3 linked regions of the Homo sapiens genome follow. The protein of the gene in region 2 purifies or fractionates together with the protein of the main gene of each other region. This does not show direct contact. Each region holds a gene or a part of one and is shown on either strand. Other genes may lie near its edges.

Region 1 (3,654 bases), on a different chromosome or scaffold from region 2:
TCCCAGTTTCAAGCAATTCTGGTGCCTCGGCCTCCCAGGTAGCTGGGATTACAGGTGCAAGCCAGCACACTTGGCTAATTTTGTATTTTTAGTAGAGATGGGGTTTCACCATGTTGGCCAGGCTGGTCTCAAACTCCTGACCTCAAGTGATCCACCCGCCTCAGTCTCCCAAAGTGCTGGGATTACGGGCGTGAGCCACTGTGGCCTGCCTCAGTGATTATTTTTTAATTGAACTAATAGTATTCCTGGTATTTTCAGTCATTGACAGCCAAAAATGCCTTGTCCCCAGTTTCTGGAGCTCCCCTCCTTCCTCCTCCTGCCATGGCTTGAGGTTGAGGCCTAGTAGGAGGCTGGTGGGGGTGGAGGGGAGTGGTAGAAATGAAGGCTGGAGAAAACAGGGCCGGCACACCAAGTGCCAAGCAACTCAGTGAGGGTTTCCTCCCCTTCCCTCTCTTCAGTAATTATTTTACCCTCCCTTGTTTTATCCTCAGCTATCTGCTAATCATGTTCCACTTGCTGAAAGGCAGTCAGGTGTAGAGCTCAGGAGTACAGCCTCTTAGGAAGGATGTGACCTTGGACTTTGAATGGGGTTACTGATGGTACTTAGTTTATACTGAGAGTATTAAATGAATTGATATGTGCTAGCTATTAATAACTTCATTTCTACCCCAAGTCGAAAGCCTTCCATGAGTGGAACTGGATCTTACTCATCTTTATGTTCAGTACACCCAGCACAGGATGCTTGGCTGTTGCGAGATGCAGCCAGCATTTTCTGGAGCCCTCCCACTTCCCCTTCCCCAGTACCTCAGGCCCCTGTGTCTCACCCATCTCATTTTCTTCTTGTCTCCACATGTGCTGGTCCTAAGCTATTTGGGCAAGTTTATATAAAGGTTGATACTGCTTTCTCTTCCCTGCTGATAAACTCCTGGAATCAGAAGCCAGTTTTCATTGCTTTCTTTTTTTTCCTTTTTGTCTTTTATTGAGACAGGGTTTCGCCCTTTTACCTAGGCTGGAGTGCCGAGGTGTGATCTCAGCTCACTGCAACCTCTGCCTCCTGGGCTCAAGTGATCCTCTCACTTCAGCCTCCTGAGTAGCTGGGACTACAGGCATGCACCACCACACCCAGCTAATTTTTGTATTTTTCACAGAGACAGGGTTTCACTGTGTTGTCCAAGCTGATCTCAAACTCCTGGGCTCAAGTGATCTGCCCGCCTCAGCCTCCCAAATTGCTGGGATTACAGGCATGAGCCACCGCGCCCAGACAGTTTTCATTTCATTTCATATATTTCTTTTACATGGTAGATGCTCAATGAATATTTGCTAGATGAATAAAGTGGTAGAATAAAGCAGAATAAAGTCACTTGAAATTATGTGTAGACTAGAGAAATATTTTTTTCCAGGTAGTATGTCTCTGACTTGTTATTTTAAAATCCTTCAAAAAATAAATTGGGGCATCTACTGGTTCATTATGGTACATGTTAAATTTACTTTTTAAATTTTACTTTATTTTTTATTTTTAGACAGTCTTACTCTGTTACCTAGGCTGGAGTGCAGTGGTGTGATCAGGGCTCACTGCAGCCTCAACCTCCTGGGCTCAGGTGATCCTCCCACATCAGCCTCCCAGGGAGGTGGGACTATAGGTGCATGCCACCATGCCTGGCTAATTTTTACATTTTCTGTAGAGTCAGGGTTTCACCATGTTGCCCTGGCTAGTCTCGAATTCCTGGGCTCAAGTGATCCACCTGCGTTGGCCTCCTAAAGTACTGGGATTACAGGAGTGAGCCACTGTACCCGGCCAAATTTTCATGTTTTAAAATAATTGCCTGTCTTCACGGTTACACCCTACTTCCTTCTTCTTCATTTCTCAGAATCAAGGAGAAAAGACAAGTATTTTATTTTGAAATATGTGACAAAGTTGTCTTAATCACATCCTGTTTTGTTATTTTGAAGCATGACTCTTAGCCCTTCTATGTTGTACTCTGTGTATTTCTAACATCCTGAAGGAGGAGAATGGAAATGTTACTTACATGAAAAATAGTTGTCACTAAAGGATCCTAAAATACTGTGGGGTGTGCAGATCGTCAGAATTTCAGATTGGCCTAGAGATCAAAAAGGTTTTCTGAGAAAAGTTCAAGGATGGTCCTTACCACACGTGATTCTGGATTTGGTCGCTTGAAAAATGGCCTTGCCCCACATCCCAGAGTAGAATGAACCCTGATTCTGGAGATCCCCCCAATAGCTTGTCAGGAAGAGGTGGGCTTAGGGGCAGGCGGGTGTGGCTCTGTGCTTCAGGCAGGCTGCTGTGCCTTCCTGAGCAGGGTTTTCAGCAGATTCACTAGTGCAGTCAGCAGAGTCCCTGCCTGCCCATACAGGAGACAGTCACCTAGCCCCCTGTCCCCTTATACAAAGATCTCCCTGTCTCTGTGTATAACCCTTTGTACTTATGTTTTCTATATCAGCCTTTCTGAAATGTTCAGGTGTGAGCTCACCTGGGCCCCACTCTAGGGGAATTGATGGGAAGGAACATTTGACAGTCATGAAAGGAGGAAGCAGTCAGGTATAGGCCATCTGTGTGTTTGGAGCCTGGGTGTCTGCTGTTGATGAGTGCCAGATAGAAATAGGGATTTGATAAAATGATAGATAAAATAGGATGGGACCATCTCAACCTTGTTTTTCTTGTCTGTGGTGTGTTACGTGGGATTCAGAGATATATAAGACGTGGTCATGGCCTCCAGAAATTTTTGTTCTGGAGGTAAAGTTATTACATTAATTATGTATACCAGTGTTAAAATATAGATAAGGTGTAACAAGCATCGTGTGGGGAGAGAATGGACAATGTCTGTGAGGGGGGTGCATCCCTTATTTAACAGTTATTTCCAAATCCGTGGCAGCTGAGACCTTGCCTCTCTTGTGTCTTTTTCTTTTCTCATGAGTTAGAATGAGGAGGAGACATGACCACGGGGTTCAGGGCAGAAAGTCAGACTCAGAAGGAAGAAAAAGAAGTCCCCAATTGCTCTGACATCAGCATCCCATGTCTGCCTCTGTTTCCTGTAAGGGAGCCCACCCATCTCTAGGACTCAGAAGGCATACATTGTTGAAGGAGCTACGTTTGAGGCTGGCTCTAAGGGACTTCGACAGGCTTGAGGGACTCATCTAGACCTGGGGCATTTGTTTTGTAAGGAAGGTTTTATTGGAACACAGACACACTCACTCATTTGTGTGCTATCTGTAGTTGCTTTCACATGTCTACGGTGGACTTGAGAAGTAGCAGAAATCATGCAGCCTGCAAAACCACATGTATTTATTATCTGGCCTTTTATGAAGAAAAGTTTGCTGATGCTTGCTCTAGACCAGCATGTGCCACGAGCACATTTTCTAGCAGATAAACAGATGTCTTATCTTGTCACTCCTATTGGATATCGTGCTGGAGAAGTGGTAGCTAGTGTAACAAAAACAAAAACAAATTGAAGGTATGCAGATTGGAAAGGTTATCTCTGGGAGGTAGGATTAGAGGTTGTTTTTCCTTCTATTTCTGTTCATATTTCCTATGGTAAACATAGTAGTTTTAAAATAAATTCAAGTTTATACATCGAATGAACTTGATTAGAGGAGCAACTGGCTATACTCCCTACTCCTTGTATGGGTAGATCAAAC
Region 2 (3,654 bases):
ATAAATTTCAGACCCCAGAATACCTGAATCCATTCCTGTCTCTAAGGGATTTTCAACAGCACAAGACAAATTTATAATTTTGAAAACTTTCACTTTGGTGTATCCAGTTCATGGGCTATAATACTGTTATATCCCTTGCGTTTAGAATAGGATAAACAATGAGATATTATTTTAAAAGAGAAGTCTGTCATTACAGCTAAGTTCAAGACTTATTATAAATAAATAATAATTTTAAAACATCAAATTATACTCAATATATGTTGTGGTTCTGCTTTAATTGTGATGGAATGAAACTGCTGTCACCATGTAGATTACCGAGTATAGATACCGTCTATCTTCCTTATTATGTGTCTAGAAAGCTAGATTTCAAGTCTTTCAATAAATATTTTGGGAAACCTTTCTCCCCAGACTCCAATTCCTTCTCTTTTCCCCACCATCACTTTGTTACATTGGTCTGATTTATGGCAGGTAAGGAAACAAAGCGTGAATCTTCCCTTTGACTATTACACCATCCTGTGGCCTCAGGCTGAGTCAACCACTCTGCCTCTTGCCTCACTACCTTTTTTCATGGGATTCCCTCCCCCTCTCCCAACCCCTAATTACAGGGCTCCATATATAGTCCTCAATAAAAGTTCCCGTCAATTTTCAATAAAGAGATTAATCATGTATGTTGGGTAGGCAACACCTGAGATGAAAAGTGGTAGCAACTTCTCAGAAGCAGCCACATTACTCAACAGCAAGCTGATGAGAAGTGGAGAAAAACCACAAACAGCCAAAACCACAGAGCATTAAGGATGTGGAGAGTGAGTATTCAAAAATGGAAGTCAGTCCACACACCAGAAAGAACATTTTGCCAAGTATTAAAAAAAAGGTTAAAACCCTTATGTTAGTGATACAGAAAGCGTCAGGGATGTTTATCTTCCAGCAAGACAGCACTTTAGGTAATGCTGTGGTTTCTATGTGTCCCCCAAAAGTTCATGTGTTGGAAACCTGATCCCCAGTGCAGCAATGTTGAGAGGTGGGACTTTGGGGAGATGATTGGGTCATGAGGATTCTGCCCCCATGAATGGATTCATCCATTGATGGATTAACGAATTAATGTGTTATTGAGGAAGTGGGCTAGTTATCAAAAAAGTTGGTCTGTTTTATATATATTTTATATTTTATATATATATGTATATATATGTATATGCCATCTCTCTTGAATCCCTGTGAAGTCCTCTGTCACCTTAAGTCTCTGCAGAGAGTCCCCACCAGCAAGAAGGCCCTCACCAGATGTGGCTCTTATGGCTCTTAGACATTAGACTTCCTAGCCTCCAAAACTGTAAGAAATAAATTCCTTTTCTTTATAAATTACCCAGTCTCGGGTATTCAGTTATAGCAACAGAAAATGGACTGAAACAGTTAATAAGAAGGAATTTTTTTAAAGATTCTGAAGAGGAGCCATAAGCTATCATGGTGGTATTGCTACTAGAATCAGGTATAAAAAATTATTAGTCTGAAAATACTGAAGACTCCTTGAGTGGAGAAAAGAAACTCAGATCTTTGCCTTTTCCCTGCTACAGATATGGACAGAGACAATGGAAAAATAAAGAAGACTGTTGGGGTACTCAAGAACTCTCTTGTGACCTTACCAGTGAAACCTCAGACATACAGGAACCTTATTACGGGAGGGTGAGGGCGGCCTCGGCTGGGAGCTACTCAGAATGGAGCATGACGCCGCGGTTCACTCCCTGGTGGGAAAGTGAGTTCCATGGAGTTTCTTTGCCCTTGTTCTTCCTGCTTTTGGACAGCCCTCCCGGAGCACGGCTAGTGACTAGGCCTTGTGCTTTGCTGAGGTCTCTACATCATTATCTCTTTTGGTCTAATTGTCAGAACAACTCTAGGAGATAGCTTTTATTATCCTAATTTTCTAGTCCAGAACATCAAGATGTAGAGGCTTTAGTCATTGCTCCAATCTCGCAATCTGTATTATCCAAGTCAGGGTTCAAATTTGCTATATCTGACTGCAGAGCCTCCACTCCATCAATTTGTCACCTTGTGTGTGTGTGTGTGTGTGTGTGTTTGTGTGTGACAGGGTCTCGCTTTGTCACCCAGGCTGGAGTGCAGTGGCACGATCTTGGCTCACTGCAACCTCTGCATCCCGGGTTCAAGCGATTCTCCGGCCTCTGCCTCCCGAGTAGCTAGGATTACAAGTGTGTGCCACCACCCTTGGCTAATTTTTGTATTTTTAGTAGAGACGGGGTTTCATCATATTGGCCAGGCTGGTTTCAAACTCCTGACCTCAGGTGATCTGCCCCCTTTGGCCTCCCAAAGTGCTGGGATTATGGGTGTGAGCCACCATGCCCAGCCCCTAAAAAAGTATTTTTAGACAGCAGAATTTGTCATAGTGCCTAGTCCTTCCCCAAACACGAGGGTTAAGTTCATGAAAATACTGATTACAGGAATTTTCTGTTGAGGAAATTAAGACTTTTAGTCACCTCCCCAAAAAGGCAGACCAAAAGTGCTTTCTCAGTATCCATCCTGAAGGATATTTATTCCTTTTTTAGTTTAGTCACAACCATAGAATAATATAATCTAAGACATAGGTGTTAAAATTAACCATTACCAACAGACATTGGATAAAATAGTAGAGAGAGAGAGAGAAGGGGTTTAATGTATAGATATAAAGATGTGCATAAATAGAACAAGAAAAAAAAAAGATATTTACCACAGTCCTCATAATTGCAACAAGTCAACTAGTCATGAAGCTGTAGTTAATATTTATGACTTCTTCCTTCATTATAAACTCAACATTCACTTTCTTTCCAGCCAGCACTTCAGCTCTTTATCCACGAGGAGTTTGAGTCCTTTTGGTGTTTCCTGTCTCCGCTTGACCTAACCTTACATTAATTTTTATCACTGAATAGAGAAGCTCTAAGAGGCACACCAGAGGATACCAAGAATTCTTCCACCTGACCCCATTGTATTTATAACTATATTATGCCTTGAAAATCAGAATGAATCACCCTAGACAATATAAGAACCTCATTTTCTTTTTGTTAGTTAAATGGCATGAGGCGCTCCAAATGGTCAGGAGAGAGCCTCGACTTCCAATTTTTGGAAACCATTTTTGTTATAAACCAGAAGAATTCAAGGCCAAGCATATGGGAAACAAAAACATGTCATAAGTTGTTCACTATGGGTAACAGTCAGAGTTGCCCCTCCCACTTCTACTTCTTGTATCCTAGACCAGTGAATTCTGTCTGTGGAAGAAATAGCACCATATATTGGCCCTAGGCTTAGTGAAGCATTTACCAATTGGAGCATTTACCAATTCATATGCCAATTCACAAGACGTCTCTCAAACTGAGTTTTCAATTATCCATTTCACCTTCCTATAAAGTCATGGATTTCTGAGCGACAAATATATGATATATATTTGTCCTATGGGTCTTGAGACCTTGCTTCACTCCTTTCACATTAACTTAAGTTCTTTGTCATAAGCAATGTATTGTGGAGTACTATGCTCATGAACAAGGCATTGACTACATCTATGGGTGTATGTGTGGTCCCAGGAGTGGTTAGGGGTCTGCTAATAAAAGCATTGAAGCAGTAAATAAAAATCTATAAACAAAATCTGTAACCAGAATCTATATCCAGCAGTAAAGAAAA
Region 3 (3,654 bases), on a different chromosome or scaffold from region 2:
GATTCACCCATTATGTTTCTTCCGAGAACTCAGGAATGTATTAACTACATTTGGAATCCTGACCATCATGGGAGGTTCATTTTTAAATTACCTGTAATTCACTTTCTAGCCCATTCTTGAATTATATATCCTACACAAAAAGGTGGTAGAAGACTTGGTTCTCATTCTGTTTCTCAGCATAAATGATTCTTTTTTTTTTTTTGGAGACAGAGCCCTGCTCTGTTGCCCAGGCTGGAGTGCAGTGGTATGATCTCGGCTCACTGTAACCTCTGCCTCCCGGGTTCAAGCGATTCTCCTGCCTCACCCTCCTGAGTAGCTCGGATTTCAGGCACATGCCATCATGCCCAGCTTATTTTTGTATTTTTAAAAGACAGGGTTTCACCATATTGGCCAGGCTGGTCTCAAACTCCTGACTTCAGGTGATCTGCCCGCCTCAGCCTCCCAAACTGCTGGGATTACAGGCATGAGCCACCAAAACACCTGGCCTAAATGATTTCTAATCACTTGTTTGGTTTATACAGTTTGACTGCTTATTATACTAAGAGGACAAGTCATATAACTAACACAGTTGTCTAAAAAAAATTTTTTTGATTCAGAATTCTAAGCAGTTTACTAACTCAACTTATTTCATAGACATGTAATGGCAAAGGTCTGGTTTCTAAAACTACAGCTATTTTTCATGCCTCAGGATGCATGAAACTGTTTTTGTTTCATATAGTCCTTCTATTTTGTATCTTTTGCAAGTGTTTGACTCATGAGACCTTCTATTATAGGATGGGATCCAAGAAGAGAAACTGGAACCTTTATCCAGCTTGCCTACGGGAGATGAGCCGTGTCTGCACACCTACCACAGGCCGAGCTGTACTACTTACTCAAGACACAAAATGCTTTACCAAGGTGCTATACACATTAGCTCAAAATCGCAGCCTGTGGCAACTTTGGGATCTTTTTGAGATTTGGGGATGTTTGTTTGGATAAGATTTGTTTTCTCTTCCCCTGAGGTTTCCTATCTTGGCAGTTAAGAATCCTAGTTGATGTAAAAGTAGATTGTCAACCTAATTGTTATTTTTTTTGTGTGTACACAGGCGTTATCTGGAATGCGACACGTATGGCGAAAGGTGGATACAGTCTGGGTGAACGTTGGTGGTCTTCGTGCTGCAGTTTACGTTCTGATACGTACACCTCAAGCTTTTGTTCATCCTTCAGAACAAGACGGAGAAAGAGGAACTCTTTGGCAATGCAAAGAATGAAGATGACTAATAGTACTTGTACTTCCCACCACTGGAAATGTTAGCATAAAAGAACTTGGAGAGGAAAAAAGTATTAACAAAACTGCAGTCTGCACTCTTTAAACCTGTTTAAGGCTCTTCATCCTGGTTAGCAAAAGGTGTGAATGTAATGTGATGGAATTTAAAAGTTTTATGAGACCAGGCACAGTGGCTCACGACTGTAATTCCAGCAGTTTAGGAAGCCGAAGTGTGCAGATCACCTGAGGTCCGGAGACCAGCCTGGCCAACATGGTGAAACCCTGTCTCTACTAGAAATACAAAAATTAGCCAGGTGTGGTGGCGGGCGCCTGTAATCCCAACTACTCAGGAGGCTGAGGCTAGAGAATCACTTGAACCCAGCAGGCGGAGGTTGCGGTGAGTCGAGATCACGCCATTGCACTCCAGCCTGTGCGACAAGAGCGAAACTCTGTCTCAAAAAGATTTTATAAGAAAGCAGAGCTTTTCCTTGAAGCTCTTTTGAAGTGGTAGCTTAATTAGTATTTTGTTGAAAATACTTTAAAGATGCCTAGTGAAAAGCCTACTAAAGTGCTGTGAGATTGGGGTTTAGAACATTTTATTTTCAGGCTTTATGGCCTATTTTCCATTGTGTCAAGTGCAAAACTACCCTGGCCCAAAGGAAGGGCAGAGAACATAATTACATCTTAGGCCACATTTCATTCTTTGCAGCTTTGCTAATCCAGTTGCTCAAGTTCTTTACCTCAACCTGAAGGAATGAAGCATTATTACATTTTGTGAATGGTGTTCAGCCTATAAGACGAAGTCTCACAAGACCTATAGGAAAGTTTACCATCTGCCTTAAATATTAAAATATCCATCTGTTATTCACATTAATACACAGAATGAAAATAGAGGTCTAGGAATTATCAAAGGTACTGCAAAAATACTGTATAGAACTTATTTGTAAATAGCACATACATTGATAGATGGGGTGTGGGACCAACAAACCAAATTAAAAGAAATTGTTTTTCTTTCAGTACACTAAGGTGTGTGTTTTCAAAACCAAACACAAACCTGTCAAGAGTATTTGTTGGCTAGTTTCTTAAAAGGCCAAGAGAAAAAAAATGATATATCTTTGGAAAACTTTTAATTTGGGAGTTATGTGAGTTGTTACTTTCTCCTGGATCACGATTCACATTTAATTGCTTTTCCAGTTGCAACAAGTCCTTCTTGAGAGTTTTGTGGAAAATGGTGCTTCCCTGGAACAAAGAGTAGTTGAGGTTTTTTTGTGGAACTCATCATAGTATTGTTTATTTTGGAGCCTCTGGCTGCAATCAGTATAGATTTTCAGTATCCTATTAGTATTATAATAGTACTCCTCTTAATACTTTCTGATGTCTCCATTGAGAATAAAAGGACACAATACTTTTGAAAGAAGAGTTCACATTAGCAGCACAGCCAGCAATCCTCATCTGGTTTCTCTGATCTCCTACCCCACACTTCATAATGAATGGGAAATAAGATGTTTATGAAGGTTTTATATCCTAGACTGGCCTTTTTACCACTATCAGAATTCACAGCTGCTTTGTTTATGGGCCGAACACAAAACTTTTCACCTGATGGGAGAAACCATTTAAACCTCAAATTAAGCAACCCACAGAACCAGGAAGTTCAAGGACCATGTCTGTTTTCACCACGATGTCTTTCCCCACCCCCCCACCCCCCACTCCACCCCCCACTAAGGGCAGGGTATTGTATCTGCCAGACTGGGTATTTGTTGAACAAGCGAGTATTTTCGCCTATTAGCTTAGTTTTTAAGGAAATCATTTTTTACTTGATTCATCATAGCTTTAATTCTATTACATACTACAATAAAAATTTGACAAGACTGATACAAATATGTAGTGGGCAATAGTTTGCCGTCTTCTTCCCTAGTATGGTGTTTTTCAATCTGGTGACTAGAATAGGCAGTGGGCTATAAGCAGGATTCATAAGGCCTGGAGCTGAGTTATATGTGACACTGCCACCTATTCATTGTGTGACCTTGGTTTTAACCTTCAAAGTGGGTCTCCTGGACTAAAAGAATGTGAAAAGATGGGGAAATAAATCTGTAATCTGAACATGGAATGACTTAGTTACAGACCAGACATATTGTTACTGGGAATGAAAAAGTCAATATATTTGAGGGGAAAAAAATGTAAATAAATATTGAGAAAGATTTTACAAATCTAATTAGGGGAAGATAGTTATCTCCCAATACTAGAGGGTACCAGAGTGCTTTTAAGGGGAACATTTGGTTACCCTTATTTCTTTAAAAAATGGCAGTTTAGGAAATTCTGCCCTAACTGTAGTCCCAATGTCAGATAGGACTCAGGTCTCCACTGCAAGGACCAAAATGTTAAGTTGAAGACTGAAAATGGGAAAATTT

The links.
Region 1: the proteins of IL22RA2 (region 2) and UPP1 purify together in Homo sapiens (co-immunoprecipitation; one large-scale study listed by IntAct). This does not show direct contact.
Region 3: the proteins of IL22RA2 (region 2) and THUMPD3 purify together in Homo sapiens (co-immunoprecipitation; one large-scale study listed by IntAct). This does not show direct contact.

The regions. Positions count from the first base shown.
Region 1 is NC_000007.14:48,095,737-48,099,390, forward strand, and holds part of UPP1 (uridine phosphorylase 1), read left to right. Parts: intron 1-3,654. UniProt on the Homo sapiens protein: Catalyzes the reversible phosphorylytic cleavage of uridine to uracil and ribose-1-phosphate which can then be utilized as carbon and energy sources or in the rescue of pyrimidine bases for nucleotide synthesis.
Region 2 is NC_000006.12:137,153,031-137,156,684, reverse strand, and holds part of IL22RA2 (interleukin-22 receptor subunit alpha-2 isoform 1 precursor), read left to right. Parts: intron 1-1,565; coding exon 1,566-1,744; intron 1,745-3,654. UniProt on the Homo sapiens protein: Isoform 2 is a receptor for IL22. Binds to IL22, prevents interaction with the functional IL-22R complex and blocks the activity of IL22 (in vitro). May play an important role as an IL22 antagonist in the regulation of inflammatory responses.
Region 3 is NC_000003.12:9,383,439-9,387,092, forward strand, and holds the end of THUMPD3 (tRNA (guanine(6)-N(2))-methyltransferase THUMP3), read left to right. Parts: intron 1-773; coding exon 774-897; intron 898-1,085; coding exon 1,086-1,250; coding exon of another isoform or gene 1,251-1,294; 3' UTR 1,295-3,353; downstream 3,354-3,654. UniProt on the Homo sapiens protein: Catalytic subunit of the THUMPD3-TRM112 methyltransferase complex, that specifically mediates the S-adenosyl-L-methionine-dependent N(2)-methylation of guanosine nucleotide at position 6 (m2G6) in tRNAs.